Regions from separate parts of the Homo sapiens genome. Here region 2 is linked to region 1. A link means that fine-mapping ties the variant in region 1 to the expression of a gene that starts in the linked region. Tissue or cell type: cerebellar hemisphere. Region 1 holds a variant in brackets; the other region holds the start of a gene. All regions are shown on one strand. Distances are from middle to middle.

The links. PIP is the estimated chance that this variant, and not a neighbour inherited with it, causes the effect.
Region 2: it holds the start of GSR, and the variant in region 1 is fine-mapped to the expression of GSR in cerebellar hemisphere (GTEx, PIP above 0.99).

The regions. Positions count from the first base shown.
Region 1 is chr8:30,704,045-30,712,147 of GRCh38, reverse strand. It overlaps GSR (glutathione-disulfide reductase), which reads left to right. Exons shown (of 13, transcript NM_000637.5): 2 at 60-86; 3 at 2,246-2,334; 4 at 4,007-4,076. Among named protein-coding and RNA genes, the nearest start is that of GSR, 20 kb to the left of the region's middle. The variant G/T (reference allele first, on the strand shown) is at 4,414.
Region 2 is chr8:30,724,133-30,732,235 of GRCh38, reverse strand. GSR (glutathione-disulfide reductase) reads left to right here and starts at 4,390. Exons shown (of 13, transcript NM_000637.5): 1 at 4,390-4,706. The coding sequence starts at 4,401. It also overlaps a transcript of UBXN8 not described here. RefSeq lists enhancers at 2,518-3,042, 4,805-5,492 and silencers at 4,130-4,219, 4,290-4,729, 7,874-7,933.

The DNA.
Region 1 (8,103 bases):
TTTCGTTTGATGGTTTGAATTCAATATTCTTAAAGTGTGTCTCTTTTTTTTTTTTCCAGGTGAATGTTGGATGTGTACCCAAAAAGGTAGAATTTTTATTTCTCTTTCCCTTTACAATCCTTTTTCTATTTGGTAAATCATAATCAAAATCAGAATGTTTCCAAATAGATCAGTTAAAATTCTTTCTGCAAAAAAAACCCCTAGACCCTACTAAAAGTAGCTTAAGCAATAGGATTGTTTTTGTTTGATTTGTGTTTTTTAAATTTTTTTATTTATTTTTAATTACTTTTTATTTTTATTATTATTGTTTTTTTGAGACGGAGTTTCGTTCTTGTCACCCAGGCTAGAGTACAGTGGCGCGATCTTGGCTCACCGCAACCTCTGCCTCCTGGGTTCAAGTGATTCTCTTGCCTCAGCCTCCCAAGTAGCTGGGATGACAGGCGTGCGCCACTGCACTTGACTGATTTTTGTATTTTTAGTAGAGATGGGGGTTTCACCGTGTTGGCCAGGCTGGTCTCGAACTCCTGACCTCAGGTGATCTGCCCACCTCAGCCTCCCAAAATGCTGGGATTATAGGCATGAGCCACAGACCCCAGCCAAGGCCTGGTCATCTACACCACAGGATAGTTTTTTCTCAGCAAAAAGACCCAGCCAGCAAACCAAACTGTTGAATGGAATCTTCTCAAGTTCTGTGGGTTCATGGATTTTCTGTATCACATTAGTGATTTTTTCGTTGTTAATATCTGTGGTGCAGGTCACATTGAATGAATTCATTTTTTTTACCCTTGACAAAGAGGAAAAAACAGCAGCTCTTATTTGTAAAGCTGCCTCTTGCTTATACTTGCAAAGAATTTTACCACTCATTTGAATGTACTTTCAACATATGTTGTAATCTCAAGCTTACCACCTTTATTAATGACATTCCATTTTAACTTGTCATCTTTTTGGTATTATATAAGCAAATCTCCTAATCTCATCAGTGATGCATACCTGAGTTTAATTCCAAAAAGTCTTTTTGAAGTCTTTTCCGTGGTATAGGTAAGGTGTTTTTCTTTCTGTCTTAGGAAGACTTTTCTTCTCTGGGACATTTTCCCTCAACTATTTCCTTTCCTATTAGTCATACTTTTTGTAATCTGTTCTACTTGGAGCCATGCAATTATGACTGTATGAATTATATAAATTAATTATAAGGTGGTTTTATGTAGTTTAAACCAGTTATGGTGGTAAATTTCGTGTTGATTGGTACAAGTTTATTTTTTTTTAAATATACCACTGGGCTAATACTGCACAGTAAACTGATTTTGTAATGTTTTAGTCTCATATTTACTTATTCCTTCTGATCACATGCGGTAGACATTTATGTATGTTCATTTATATATTTTTTTTTCTTTTTTTTCTTTTCTTTTTTTTTTTTTTTTTTTTTTTTTTTTTTTGAGACAGAGTCTCACTCTTGCCCAGGCCGGAATGCAGTGGTGTGATTTCAGCTCACTGCAATCTCCACCTCCCAGGTTCAAGTGATTCTCCTGCCTCAGCACAAGTAGCTGGGACTACAGGCGTGCATCACCATGCCTGGCTAATTTTTTTTGTATTTTTATTAGAAATGAGATTTCACCATGTTGGCCAAGATGGTCTCGAACTCCTGACCTCAAGTGATCTACCTCCCTCTGCCTTCCAAAGTGCTGGGATTATAGTCATGAGCCACTGTGCCCGGCCTTGTGTTTGTTTCTTTTTAGTCTGTTTTTAATAGCTTTCCCCTTATCTCTTTAAAAAAAAATGTTTTAAGTTAGCAAGGTATAGTAGATTTTATTTATTATTATTATTATTATTTTATCTTTTGAGACAGAGACTCTGTCACTCAGGCTGGAGTGCAGCAGTGTGATCTTGGCTCACTACAACCTCTGCCCTCAGGGTTCAAGCAATTCTCCTGCCTCAGCTTCCCAAGTAGCTGGGACTACAGGTGTGTGCCACCATACCCAGCTAATTTTTGTATTTTTAATAGAGATGGGGTTTTGCCATGTTGGCCAGGCTGGTCCCGAACTCTTGACCTCAAGTGATCCACCTGCCTCGGGCTCCCAAAGTGCTGGGATTACAGACGTGAGCTGCCGTGCCCAGCTAGGTTTGTTTTTAATTTAAAGGGCAGTATTTTTATCTGCTGTTACCTAGTTACCATTCATTCATGATTCCTTTTTTCCCTCAGGACTGATTTACTGCTGTTTTGGATCCTTTTTTTTTTTTTTTTTTACAGGTAATGTGGAACACAGCTGTCCACTCTGAATTCATGCATGATCATGCTGATTATGGCTTTCCAAGTTGTGAGGGTAAATTCAATTGGCGGTAAGTGTCAACACTCAGAGGGTTCAGTTTCCAAGTGTAGATATTTTTCTTTTATAACTGAGCCATAAACTTTTTTAGGGATGGAGGAGGAATTGCGGTAAATATTCACAATACGAGATTTACAGTTTAGCCATTTTTAAGTATACAATTGAGTGCCATTAAGCGCATTCACATTGTTATACAGTCGTCACCACTATTACCACTTCCAGAACTTTTCTGCTATCCCAAACAGAAACTATTCTATTAAACAATAACCCCTCATTCTCTTCTCCCCCTGGCCCCTGGGAACCTCTATTCTGCTTTCTGTCTCTATGAATTTGCCAATTCTAGGGAACTCATATAAGTGGAATCATACAATATTTGTTCCTTTATGTCTAGTGTATTTTGTTTTCACGGTTTGTCCATGTTGTAGTATGTATCAGAACCTCATTCCTTTTTGTTTGTTTGTTAAGACAGGGTCTTGCTCTGTTGTCCACGCTGGAGTGCAGTGGTGCAATCATAGCTCACTGCTATCTTGAGCTCCTGGGCTCAAGCTATCCTCCCACTTCAGCCTCCTGAGTAGCTGGGACTACAGGCACGTGCCACCATGCCTGCCTATTTTTTTTAATTTTTGTTTTTAGTAGAGATGAGGTCTCACTGTGGTGCCCAGGCTAGTCTTGAACTCCTGAGCTGAAGTGATCCTCCCGCCTCAGCCTCCCAATGTGCTGGGATTACAAGTGTGAGCCACTGTGCCCAGCCTTCATTCCTTTTAAAGGCAGAATAAGATTTCTTCATATGGATAAAACCACATTTTGTTTATCCATTCATTTGTTAGTGAATTTTTGGGTTGTTTTTACCTTTTTTTTTTTTTTTTTTGAGACGGAGTCTCACTCTGTCACCCAGGCTGGAGTGCAGTGGTGCGATCTCGGCTCACTGCACGCTCCGCCTACCGGGTTCACGCCATTCTCCTGCCTCAGCCTCCTGAGTAGCTGGGACTACAGGCACCCACCAGCATGCCTGGGTAATTTTTTGTATTTTTTTTAGTAGAGACGGGATTTCACTGTGTTAGCCAGAATGATCTCGATCTTCTGACCTCGTGATCCGCCCACCTCAGCCTCCCAAAGTGCTGGGATTACAGGCGTGAGCCACCGCGCCCGGCCTGTTTTTACCTTTTGGTTATTGTGAACAATGCTGCTATGAACATTCGTATATGGGTATCTGTTCAGGTCTCTGCTTCCAGTTTCTTTTGGGTCTGTACTTAGAAGTGAAATTGCCGAATCGTATGGTAGTTTTGTGTTTAACTATTTAAGGAACTGCTGTAAATCCTTTGAAGCCATTAACAGTTTTGAAGAAATTTAGCAAATTTATTTATTTAGCAAGTGTTTATTAAGTGCCCACCACGTCCTGTGCACATCATGTTCTAGGCACTTTGCCAAAACATTTCTCCTTGTCTTCTGCGCAGAAAGATGATGCCAACTGAGTGTGTTCTCCACTGAGTGGCACAGAGGCTTTTAACACATGGGGCAGCAGAATGACACAGGGAAGGGATGACTGTCTTCGGAGACATTCACTCACTGCGGTTGCTGTTGACAGTCAGTGATTCTCTGCTCGGGGTGTTCAGGGACAGATGCCTTAGTTACTAACTAGAAGGGGAAGATCCTGTTTCTGAATACTGACTTGGGTTTCATTGCAGTGTTATTAAGGAAAAGCGGGATGCCTATGTGAGCCGCCTGAATGCCATCTATCAAAACAATCTCACCAAGGTGTGTATGCTGGGTTTTTAACTTTGAGAAAGAGCTGTTCCCTTCTTGAGTACTCAGCTAAGTCTTGCCAGACTGTAGCCCTATTTATTTATTTATTTTTATTATTATTTTTTTGGAGACAGGGTCTCGCTCTGTCGCCCAGGCTGGAGTGCAGGGGCGCAATCTCGGCTCACTGCAACCTCCGCCTCCTGAGTTCAAGCAATTCTCCTGCCTCAGCCTCCTGAGTAGCTGGGACTACAGGCGTGTGCCACCACACCCATCGAATTTTTGTATTTTTTTAGTAGAAACAGGGTTTCACCATGTTGGCCAGGCTGGTCTCGAACTCCTGACCTCAGGT[G/T]ATCTGCCCACCTTGTCCTCTCAAAGTGCTGAGATTACAGGCATGAGCCACTGCACCCGGCCCTATTTTATTTTTAACGACCAGGTCTCTATCTGTCGCCAGGCTGGAGTACGGTGGTGCAATGATAGCTCACTGTAGCCTCCAAGTCCTGGGCTCAAGCAGTCCTCCCACCTCAGTCTCCTTAGTAACTAGGACTGTAGGCATGCACCACCACACCTGGCTAATTTTTAAAATATTTTGTAGAGATTTCTCACTGTGTTGCCTAGGCTGGTCTTTAAACTCCTGCCTTAGCCTCCCAAAGTGTTGGGATTATAGAGATGAGCCACTGTGCCTGGCCTCTTACTTTTTCTATTATTGAAATTGACCTGTCAGAGCAGAAGCCTCTGACCTAGATGGCCAGTCTCTTCTGCAGAGAGAGGGTGGCATGTGCCAGAGCTGGCAGACCAGGCCTCACCTAATGGCTGCACCTTGAGTAGGTCTGGCCTGGCAATTAGATTCAGAAGTCACATACGAGAGACTTTGTGCACCAGTATACCAGTTTATTAATTAAAATGAGGAGTGCTATCTAGCTGAAAACCTGCCATTGTGTGTTTGTTTGTTTTTTGAGACAGAGTTTCTCTATTCACCCAGGCTGGAATGCACAATCTCAGCTCAGTGCAACCTCTGCCTCCCGCCAGGTTCAAGCAATTCTCCTGCCTCAGCCTCCCAAGCAGCTGGGATTAGAGGTGTGCACCACCACGCCTGGGTAATTTTTGTATTTTTACTAGAAACGGGATTTCACCATGTTGGCCAGGGGTCTCGAACTCCTGACCTCAAGTGATTTGCCCACCTCGGCCTCCCAAAGTGCTGAGATTATAGGCGTGAGCTACCGCACCTGGCCAAACCTACCATTGTTTATTTGCCTAGAGTAAGACCTCCTTAAGAGACCAAATTAGGATTCAGAAGGTTGTTTTTATGAATGACATCTGATCAAGAAAACTGGGCAGAGGTGTGTTTGCCTCCAGCAACTGTATGTCATCCTTCACTATCCTGATGCTTTTCCCCCATAGTGCTGGGATGTCACACCTTTCCCACCAGGACCATGTAGGTGACATTGACAACCTGTGCATCACTTAACTCTCCTTTTCCTTGACAATATCTTCCCGCCACCCTTCATTTGTCTTTGTGGTCTCACTTTGCTGTTTCTAAGATTTCTTACGGTTGTTTGTTTGTTTGTTTGTTTGTTTATTTGTGAAACAGAATCTTGCTCTGTCGCCCAGGCTGGAATGCAGTGATGTGATCTCGGCTCACTGCGACCTCTGCCTCCCAGGTTCAAGCAATTCTTGTGCCTCAGCCTCCCGAGTAGCTGGGACTACAGGCACGTGCCCCCACACCTGCCTAATTTTTTTTGTATTTTTAGTAGAGATAGGGTTTCACCATGTTGGCCAGGCTGGTCTTGAACTCCTAGCCTGAAGTGATCTGCCTGCCTCAGCCTCCCAAAGTGCTGGGATTACAGGGGTGAACAACCACTCCTGGCCCTCTTAGGTTATATTTAGATCAGTAACTTTTTTTTTTTTTTTTGAAAAGGGTCTTACTCTGTCACCCAGGCTGAAGTGCAGTGGCATGATCTCAGCTCACTACAGCCTCGACCTCCCAGGCTCAAGTGATCCTCCTGCTTTGGCCTTCCAACATGCTGGGATTACAGGCATCAGCCACTACACCTGGCTTAGATCAGTAGATTCTTGATGATAATTAGGCCACTGTGATCTCAGTAGCAGCATATTTATAAACCAATTTTTAGGACGAGTTACTTCATACATAGCTAACTGTGTACAGTTTTATATTCTTATTCATTGGGTTTATTTTTTGGAGGGTGAATTTTCCAACCTTAATCCTCAATCCAGGGGGAAAAATATTTAAAGGCCTGCAGTCCTTAAGCACAGGAGATTTTAAGGCTGAGTATAGAGTAACACTGGCAGTACTAAAACACACCAAGTTTTTTATTTTTATTTTTTATTTTTTTGAAGTCAGGATCTCACTCTCTTGAGCAGACTGGAGGGCACTGTCGTGATCACAGCTCACTGCAGCCTTAACCTCCCAGGCTCAAGCAATCCTCCCACCTCAGCCCCCTGAGTAGCTTGGGCTATAAGCACTGTCCCACCACACCCTACTACTTTTAAAAAACGTTTGTAGAGGCCGGGCGCGGTGGCTCACACCTGTAATCCCAGTACTTTGGGAGGCCGAAGCGAGTGGATCATGAGGTCAGGAGATTGAGACCATCCTGGCTAACACGGTGAAACCCCAGCCCTACTAAAAAATACAAAAATTGACCAGGTGTGGTGGCGGGCGCCTGTATTCCCAGCTATTTGGAAGGCTGAGGCAGGAGAATGGCGTGAACCCTGGAGGCGGAGCTTGCAGTGAGCTGAGATCACACCACTGCACTCCAGCCTGGGCAAAAATGCAAGACTCTGTCTCAAAAAAAAAAATTTTTTTGTAGAGATGAGGTCTTGCTATGTTGCCCACGCTGATCTTGAACTCCTGGACTCAAGCAACCCTTCTGCCTTGTCCTCCCAAAATATGGGAATTATAGGCATAAACCACTGCATCTGGCCTTTTTTTTTTTTAATGGAGCTGACTGAAATACTTTTGCAAAAGAGGTAGGAAAATTATTCAGGAACCAGCATTTTGTAATACTTAGAAATCTTGGTGTGTACTATAGCTTATGGTGATCTTATGGGGAAGGAATTACCTATAGTTGACCCAGAAATTCTATATTGCAAAGGAAACTTTCTATCTAATATCCTGGAAACTGAAAGTAAAAATCTCACTGCTTCCTCCTCTGAACTAGTGTCTGTCCTATCGCCACGCGAGCCATACTCCTTTTTGTCTAGCATTGCAGATGAAGTCATTAAGACCTGAGGGAATGGTGTTCTGGAGGCCTGTGGATTTTGTCTTTGACCTTGATTCAGCTTGATTAAGCCTGGCACCTGCAGGAACAGGCCTGGAGGGTGCAGGGAAAGAAGAAGATAACTCAATTCAGAATCAAGCACGTTCCAATATGTTAAAGCATTCCACTTTGTAATCATGCTTACATGGTTCCATTATTCTTGTAAGTTGACCACATTTGCATGCCCCTGCATGTATCATGGCTGGCGAAAGCGTGCCAGCAGCCCCTAAGTGAAGGCCTGGGTACAGAGGATTCCAGTAAGAGCAAATCCAAAAGTAAGAGTCTGAGTTCTCACCGTCTCCAGCGTAGAACTTCAGTGTCATGTACTTTTGTGGTATTCTTCCCATTTTACGAAAGCACAAGCATTGCGTTTCCCTCCCTTGGCCAGAGTATTCCTCTCTTGCTCTTGCCTCTGTTCATTTCACCATTATCCTGTTGTCTTTCTTAGCCTTCTGCCTCTCCTCCAGACACACCAGTCTTTTTGAGAGAGGGTCTTGTCTCTGTCGCCCAGGATGGAGTGCAGTGGCGTAATCTCGGCTCACTGCAACCTCTGCCTCCCAGGTTCAAGGAATTCTCGTGCCTCAGCCTCCTGAGCAGCTGGGATTACAGGTGCCCGCCACCACTTCTGGCTAATTTTTATATTTTTAGTAGAGATGGGGTTTCTCCATGTTGGTCAGGCTGGTCTCGAACTCCCGACCTCAGGTGATCTGCCTGCCTCGGCCTTCCAAAGTGCTGGAATTACAGATGTGAGCCACCATGCCCAG
Region 2 (8,103 bases), 20 kb before region 1:
GGAGCAACACGCAGCCTAGGTCTCTGGTGGGAAACTTCTGGAGGTCTCGAGCCAATGCCTCCCCGAAGATGGTGGGGGAGTTCTTGAACCCTTGGGGAAGCCAGGTCCAAGTGTACTGAGTAGTGACACCTGACTCCGGATCTTCCCACTGAAAGGCAAACAGCTTCTGCCTCTCAGGGGCTAATCTGATGCTAAAGAAAGCGTCTTTCAGGTCCAAGCAGGTGAACCAGCTGTCCTCAGCTGGCAGCAACCCCAGCAATATGTACGGGTTAGGTACTGTTGGATGTAAAGTCACTGTAGCCTGATTAACCAAGCGCAAATCCTGTACCAGCCTGTAGTCCTTGGTCCCAGGCTTGGGAACAGGCAGGAGGGGAGTGTTCCATGGAGACTGACAAGGAACTATAATTCCAAAGGTTCTTAGGTGCTTGAGATGGACCTGGATACCTTCAAGAGCTTCTCTGGGGACCAGGTACTGTTTTTGCCTAACCGGCTGGGCCCCGGGCTTAACTTCTATAAGTACGGGGGCTTCGTTGACTGCCAACCCTGGAGGTTGTCTTCCGCCCACACTCTTGGCCACCGCTTAGCCAGAGCTGGTCTTATCTCTTGGCCCGGCTCAGTTAACAAAAGTCTCCATTCCTCCTCTCGGGGGACCGTAAGGGTCATAATGACTCCCGTTCCGGGTAACTTTAGCAGCAAAGAGCCGTGCTCTGTAAAAGAGATAGTGGCTCTCAGTTTGCTAAGCAAGTCCCTTCTCAACAAGGGCAAGGGATAATCAGGCATGTACAAAAACTGATGAATCACTTTATGTCTTCCTACAGTACAAGTCCGGGGCAAGCAGAAAGCTTGTTTTGCTGAAACTCCCATGGCTCCGATGATGTCAATAGTCTTTTTGGATAAGGGGGCGACTGGGCCGGTTACTACCGAATGTTCAGCACCGGTATCTATAAGAAAATCAATGTCTTTACCCCCAACTGTCATCCTGACCATAGGCTCTTTGGGAGTCCTTGAGCCCGGTCCCCCTCAGTCCAATAACCCTTCTGCCAGGTTGAGCAGGGCCCCTTCCTCCTTGTCTGGAGCCTCCTGCTCCGAGTCACCTTGTTTTCCTTTTAGCTGAGGGCATTTGTTCTTCCAATGTCCTATTTCTTTACAATAAGCACACTGATTACGCTGCAAGCTCTGACAGCCAGGCTGAGTTTCTTTCCCGGGGCCCCCCTTCCCTTGCCTTTTTGTGGGAGATCCCTCTAATTGCTGCAGCTAACAGCTCGGCATTTCGCCGGGCCTGACGTTCATTCTCTCTGCGGTTTTCCTTACGGCTTACTGCATCCCTGTTTACAAACACCTGGTTAGCTATTTCTAATAATTGTGATGTGTTCATCCCTGCAAACCCAGCCTGTTTCTGCAGTTTTCTTCTAATGTCTTCTGCGCTTTGACTAACTAAAGCCATGTTAATCATGCGTTGATTTTCAGGGCTATCGGGATCAAAGGGAGTATACATGTGATAGGCCTCACACAGTCTCTCGTAGAATTGTGCTGGACTTTCTTCTTTTCCCTGAATGACCTCAGAGAACTTATTAACGTTTGTGGCCTTCTGGGCTCCCCTCTAATCCTTCTAAGAGAGCTTCCCTGTATCGGTTTAGCCTTTGCATATCCTCTCTTTCATTTGGGTCCCACTGGGGGTCGGTTCCCGGTAACTGGGTCCTTACATACTCTTGGGGGTTTTGGTAATCAGCCGGTGCATGTTCCCCTAGCCACTTAGTTGCTGCTTGGAGCACTCTCCGCCTTTCATCTGTGTTAAAGAGGAACATGAGCAACTGGTGGCAATCAGCCCAAGTGGGGTTATGGGTCTGGATAATAGTTTGGAGCAAATCAATTAGAGCTTGTGGCTTTTCAGTACAGGACGGGGTATTGTTTTTCCAGTTGAGAAGGTCGGCAGAGGTGAAGGGCTGGCACACAAAAACACGCCTCTCCGCCATGTGCCCATCCTCATCTATTCCAGTATACCGCTGCTCTCTCAAGGGCATTTGTATCCCCGTTTTGGGTCTTAAACGAGCTGCCAAGGGAGGGGTTTCTCCTGAGGCTTCACCTCCTCTCTTGTCTACTCTGGGTGGCCTAGGGATATGTTTGTCTTGCGGAGGCACAAGCACTGTGGACTCAAAAGTGGGGAGCCTCTCTCCCTGGTAAGGGGAGGGCACCACTGGGATGACTTTTGCCATCTCCTGCAATGGATCGTCTGATGTTGGGTCGAACAGAACTTCAGGAGTTGATTTCCCTCGGTGGGTGGAGCGGGATCCTTCCTTGACTATCTGTCCCTTTGCTACTAGCACTGCTGCTGCCTGCCCTCTTACCCACTGTGGTAACCAAGTGTCTATGTATGGAAACTGGTCTGAGTGTCCTGACTTACCAGTTACCTTGTGCCATACCTTAGAAACAAGGGACCTGTCCAGGCTTCCTTCTGATGGCCAACCCACTTCTAATGTTGGCCAATCTATTTCACACAAAGTTCTAAGTTTCCCTGGTGTCATAGTAACCCCATAGTCGCCATTAAATCCCTTCTTAAAATTTTTCAACATAGTTCCTAGAGGAGTAGGCTTATTTTGTGTCTGACCCGTGTTTCCTCAAGACAAAACACCAAGCTCACACCAAACGCACACCACAAAACAAAGAATGGGTAAAAAGGGCACACACGCACTTTTTCAGTTTTCACCAAACCAGAATCAAAACCAAAATCAGAGTATCCAGTAATCCAAGCCAGGTCAAACCAAAACCAAAGTGTCAAGCAATTCAAGTCAAGTCAAAAACAAAAACCAAAGTGCCAGTACAGGCACGCCGTGGGTGATCAGGCCATGCTTCCACTCAAATGGAGTGGGCAAGTTCCGAAGACCAGTCTTACCAAGTTTCAAATGTCCGGACTCCAAGTGCCTGTTCCTTCCCGGTGTTCAGCCACTGCGTTGATACTCCACGGGGGCCTGCCACGCACTGCTCTGACTAGGCGTTCCACCGGGGCAATTGCCTACCCAGGAGCGCTCGCAGGATCCGCGTCGCTCAAGCTGGCGGGAGTTCCCCGCAGGGATGCTCCACAGGGCAGGCCTAAGCCCCCTAAGGGGCTGCCTCGACTGTCCGTCAATTACCTCGCTTCCCAGTCAGGGAACCAAGAAATATAGCAGGATGAGTCACAGACAAAACTCCTCAGACACCAGATTAAAGCAGGAAGAGGTTTTTTATTCGGCCAGGAGCGTTGGCAGACTCGCGTCTTGAGAGCCGAGCTCTCCGAAAAAGAAATTCCTAGCCCTTTTAAGGGCTTACAACTCTAAGGGGTCTACGTGAAAAAATCATAATAGATCAAGTAAGCGTGGGAAACGTGACTGGGGGCTATATACATCAGCTAACAGAACAAAAAGTTTTACAGTGCTTTCTCATACAATGTCTGGAATTTACAGATAACACCAATAGTTTTGGTCAGGGGTTAATAATATTATTATTATCTTAGCCACCAGGGCCAGGTGGTGGTGCCAAGGTCGTCTAGCTATTTATCTTACTTCTGTTTCTTTCCAACTTTTTGCTTTCTCCCTTTTCTCCTGTCTTATAAACTAGGGAAAAGGGGAGGTTGGGGAGAAACTGAGAAGGACAACAGGAGAAGTGGTGACCTCATACCATAATCCTAGCATTTTGGGAGGCCGAGGTGAGAGAATCGCTTGAGGCCAAGAGTTCCCTACCAGTCCTGGTAACATAGTGAGACCCTATTTCTAAAAAAAAAATAAAAATAATAAAAAAAATAAAAAAAAAAATTAAATAAATAAATAAATAAATTAGCTGGGCGCTGTGGCGGGCACCTGTAGTTCCCAGCTACCGGGAAGGCTGAGGAGGGAGGATCGCTGCTTGAGCACAGTAGGTGGAGGCTGCAGTGAGCAGAGATCGCATCACTGCACCCCTGCCTGGGGGAGAGTGAGACCCAGTCTCAAAGAAAAAGCAAGAACAAACAAAAGTGGTCTCTGGAACAAACCTGGACAAACAACCCTTCGAATAGAGGCAAATTTCTCTTCCTGGAGAAGCCGTGCCACTGGCAACTCCCCAGGGGGCCAGCTCGGGAAAAGCCAGCTGAAACGAGAGGACGTTCACCGTTCCTCGCCTCGATCCACCGGACTTCAGAAGGCTACACGCGGCAGGCGCCGCTCGGGATCCAGGGGCCGGGGTGAGAACGGAGGCGGAGAAACCCCTCAGGCTCCGCCACCGGGGCGGGGAACTGGGAGGCGGCCCCGCCTCTGGGCATCCTCCTGGGTCTTGCCTAGCGGCGGGCGCATGCTTAGTCACCGTGAGGCTGCGCTTGCCCGGGGCCCGCGCCCCCCTACCCCGGGGACCGCCCCCGGGCCGCCCGCCCCACTTGGCGCGCCACTTCCGCGTGCATGGCCCTGCTGCCCCGAGCCCTGAGCGCCGGCGCGGGACCGAGCTGGCGGCGGGCGGCGCGCGCCTTCCGAGGCTTCCTGCTGCTTCTGCCCGAGCCCGCGGCCCTCACGCGCGCCCTCTCCCGTGCCATGGCCTGCAGGCAGGAGCCGCAGCCGCAGGGCCCGCCGCCCGCTGCTGGCGCCGTGGCCTCCTATGACTACCTGGTGATCGGGGGCGGCTCGGGCGGGCTGGCCAGCGCGCGCAGGGCGGCCGAGCTGGGTGCCAGGGCCGCCGTGGTGGAGAGCCACAAGCTGGGTGGCACTTGCGTGAGTACCGCCGGTTTGTTCGGGCGGGGGGCGCCTCTTTGTCTCGGTCTTTCGGGGGACAGCCTGTGCTCGTTCCTATGGCGATCCTGTCCCCCGGCGCTGGGCTTTCCTCTTTTCCACCCCCGCAACTCCCCATTCCGAAGCCAGGAACCCAGCAGGTGGAGGAGAGAGAGGCGTCCGGGGGCTTCTCTGCGGCCCGCAAAGCCGAGCCAGCGTCTGCTTCCGCACGGATGCGATATTGACCAGGGCCGGGGCGGGTTAGATTAACCTTCCTCCATCCTCACTTGTCCAAGTGGGAGAGGATTGGATTCTGTTCTTGACCGCGTGAAACACAAAACTGCATCTGGGAACATTGCTGGTGGCCTGTGTGTAGGGACGAGGGTGACGGTGCCATAGATCCTGGTTCTTGAAAAATGTAGATCCTGGTTCTCCCGTTTCAAGGGCAGAATGATTTATAGCGGTTGTTGTCAACCTTGGCTACACATTCGAATCACCTGAGGGTGCCTGGATTCCCGACTTAATTGGTCTGAGGTGCACTTGGGCTTTGGGATGTTTCCCGACTTAATTGGTCTGAAGTGCAGCCTGGGCTTTGGGATTTTCGGGTGATCTGAATTGCAGCCAAGGCGACCTTGAGTAGGTGAGTTCTCAGAGCTTTTGTTTTGTCTTGGTTTTATGTGGATTGCAAAACTAAAAACAGAGGGATGTAAATCCTGAGATTTACAAAATTCATAATTTTTGAAAATAAGGGTTTTTGTTTGTGTTTGTTTTTTGAGACAGGGTCTTGCCCTGTCACCTAGGCTAGAGTGCAGTGGCCATCATAGCTCACTGCAGCCTCGAACTCCCGGGCTCAAGGGATCCTCTCACCTTGGCCTCCTGAGTAGCTGGAACTACAGGGGGCTAATCACCACGCCTAGTTAATTATTATTATTTTTTGTAGAGATGGGGGTCTCGCTATGTTGCCCTTGCTGATTTCAACCTCTTGGACTCAACCGATCTTCCCGCCTCAGCCTCCCAAAGTGCTGGGATTACAAGCCTGAGCCACTGCACTCATTCTAAAAATAAATGTTGTTTCCAAGTTATTGGTGTGCCCGCCCTTTTCTATCACAAGATTTGGGTGTTGACGATTAAAATGCTGTATCCAAGAGGAACCTGGGATTTGGGATAGGTTCTCTAAATTCCTTTGGAGATGAATATTTAAATTATGTCAAATTGGGAGCTCTTTAAGGACAGGGATGGGCTTCTGTGTTTGTGTGTCTCTTATCACCTTAAAATCCCTTGCTCAATAAGCACTTGTGCAATGAATGAAACTAAAAATGGACAGTTATGAAAAGGTTGACTTCATTGTTCAGTGCCTTGGAGATGAACATGGAGATGAAGAGAAAGGAAAAATCTCTGTTAATTATCAACTTGCACTTTGACACCATAGTCCAGACAGAAGGTTAGAAATCTGTCTCTCCAGAAGGCAGATTGTGGGGTGCCACTAAGTGCCCCCCTCCCACACCTCATGAGAGTACTTGATCACTTCTCACTTCTGTTCTGCTCTCCACATTTTCTCTGTCTTCCTCTTTCTCTACTTATGTTATAATGTGCTTCAGAGGTTCACCCACTTTACCTTCCTGTTATGAATTCTTTTTTTTTTTTTTTTTTTGAGAGGGAGTCTCACTCTGTCACCCAGGCTGGAGTACAGTGGTGCAATCTGGGCTCACTGCAACCTCTGCCTCCCAGGTTCAAGCAGTTCTCCCGTCTCAGCCTCTCGAGTAGCTGGGAATGCAGGTGCATGCCACCATGCCCGGCTAGTTTTTGTACTTTTAATAGAGATGGGGTTTTGCCATGTTGGCCAGGCTGGTCTCAAACTCCTGACCTCTGGTAATCCACCCACCTTGGCCTCCCAAAGTGCTTGGATTACAAGCATGAGCCACCACACCCAGCTAATTTTTTATTTTTAAAATGTATTTATCTATTTTTTTTTCGATATGGAGTCTTGCTCTGTCACCCAGGCTGGAGTGCAGTGGTGCAATCTCGGCTCACTGCAACCTCCGCCTCCTGGGTTCAAGCAACTCTCCTGCCTCGGCCTCCCAAATTGCTGAGATTACAGGTGCCACTACACCCAGCTAACTTTTGTATTTTTAGTAGAGCCAGGCTGGTCTTGAACTCCTGACCTTGTGATCCGCTCACCTCAGCCTCCCAAAGTGCTGGGATTACAGGCGTGAGCCACCACGCCTGGCCTGTTTTTATTTTATTTATTGTTTTTTAGAAACAGGGTTTTGCCATGTTGCCCAAACTGGTCTCTTATGCCTGTGCTTAAGCAGTCGGCCTGCCTTGGCCTCCCAAAATGCTGGGATTACAGGCATCAGCCACCACTCCTGTCCCATTTTTTGTATTTTAAGTGCTGGGATTGGGGGTGGGTAGGGAGAAAACGATAGATATAAACATTTGTGAGACATGTCCCTTCCCTTAAGGAATTTTGTGGTTGTGAAAGAAAAAAATATTGGAACCCCAAAGTATGCCAGAAGGAAAGTTCAGCTTGGGAACTGAATCACACAAATACTGCTTTTCCTTTTGTTCCCAAACAGACAGCTGTAATTTCACAATCCCATGTCATAGCCTTATCTCCTCTACTCCTGCTTTTCACTTTTACTTTATCTTATGTAAAATGTAGATTTACTGAGGCTCATAAGAACCTCACAAGAATGTAACCATCTAGGCTGGGCGTGATGGCTCACGCCAGCACTTTGGGAGGCCAAGGTGGGCAGATCACCTGAGGTCAGGAGTTCGAGACCAGCCTGGCCAACACGGTGAAACTCCGTCTCTACTAAAAATACAAAAATTAGCCGGGTGTGGTGGCACATGCTACTTGGGAGGCTGAGGCATGAGAATCACTTGAGCCCAGGAGGCAGAGGTTGCAGTGAGCCAAGATCATGCCTCTGCACTCCAGTGTGGGCAACAGAGTGAGACTCTGTCTCAAAAAAAAAAAAAAAAAAAAAAGGTGGGGGGTTGGGTAGTATTCTTTGACATTCGGAACCTCAAAAGATGGGTCCCAGGCCTAGGCATCAAAACGGGATATGTTGTGTAATCAAATTTGGAGCACAGAGTGTCTCTTTAATAGAAATAAGAGATGAGAAGCTGATGGGTAGGTTGTGGTTTGAAAAATGTGGAGTTTCTGGACACACAGTGAACTATGGGGGCAGGGGTGGGTTTGAGCAAACCAGTGACTCAGTGAAAGTAGTTTTGTGGTAAGCCATAGGATTGAGATCTCACCCTTGGCGATGCCCAATAGAAGTTTGTCTTTCTGTCTTTTTCTTTTTCTTTTCCTTTCAGTTTATAGAGATAGGGTCTCACTACATTGCCTAGGCTGGTATTGAACTCCTGGACTCAAGCAATCCTCCTGCTTTGGTCT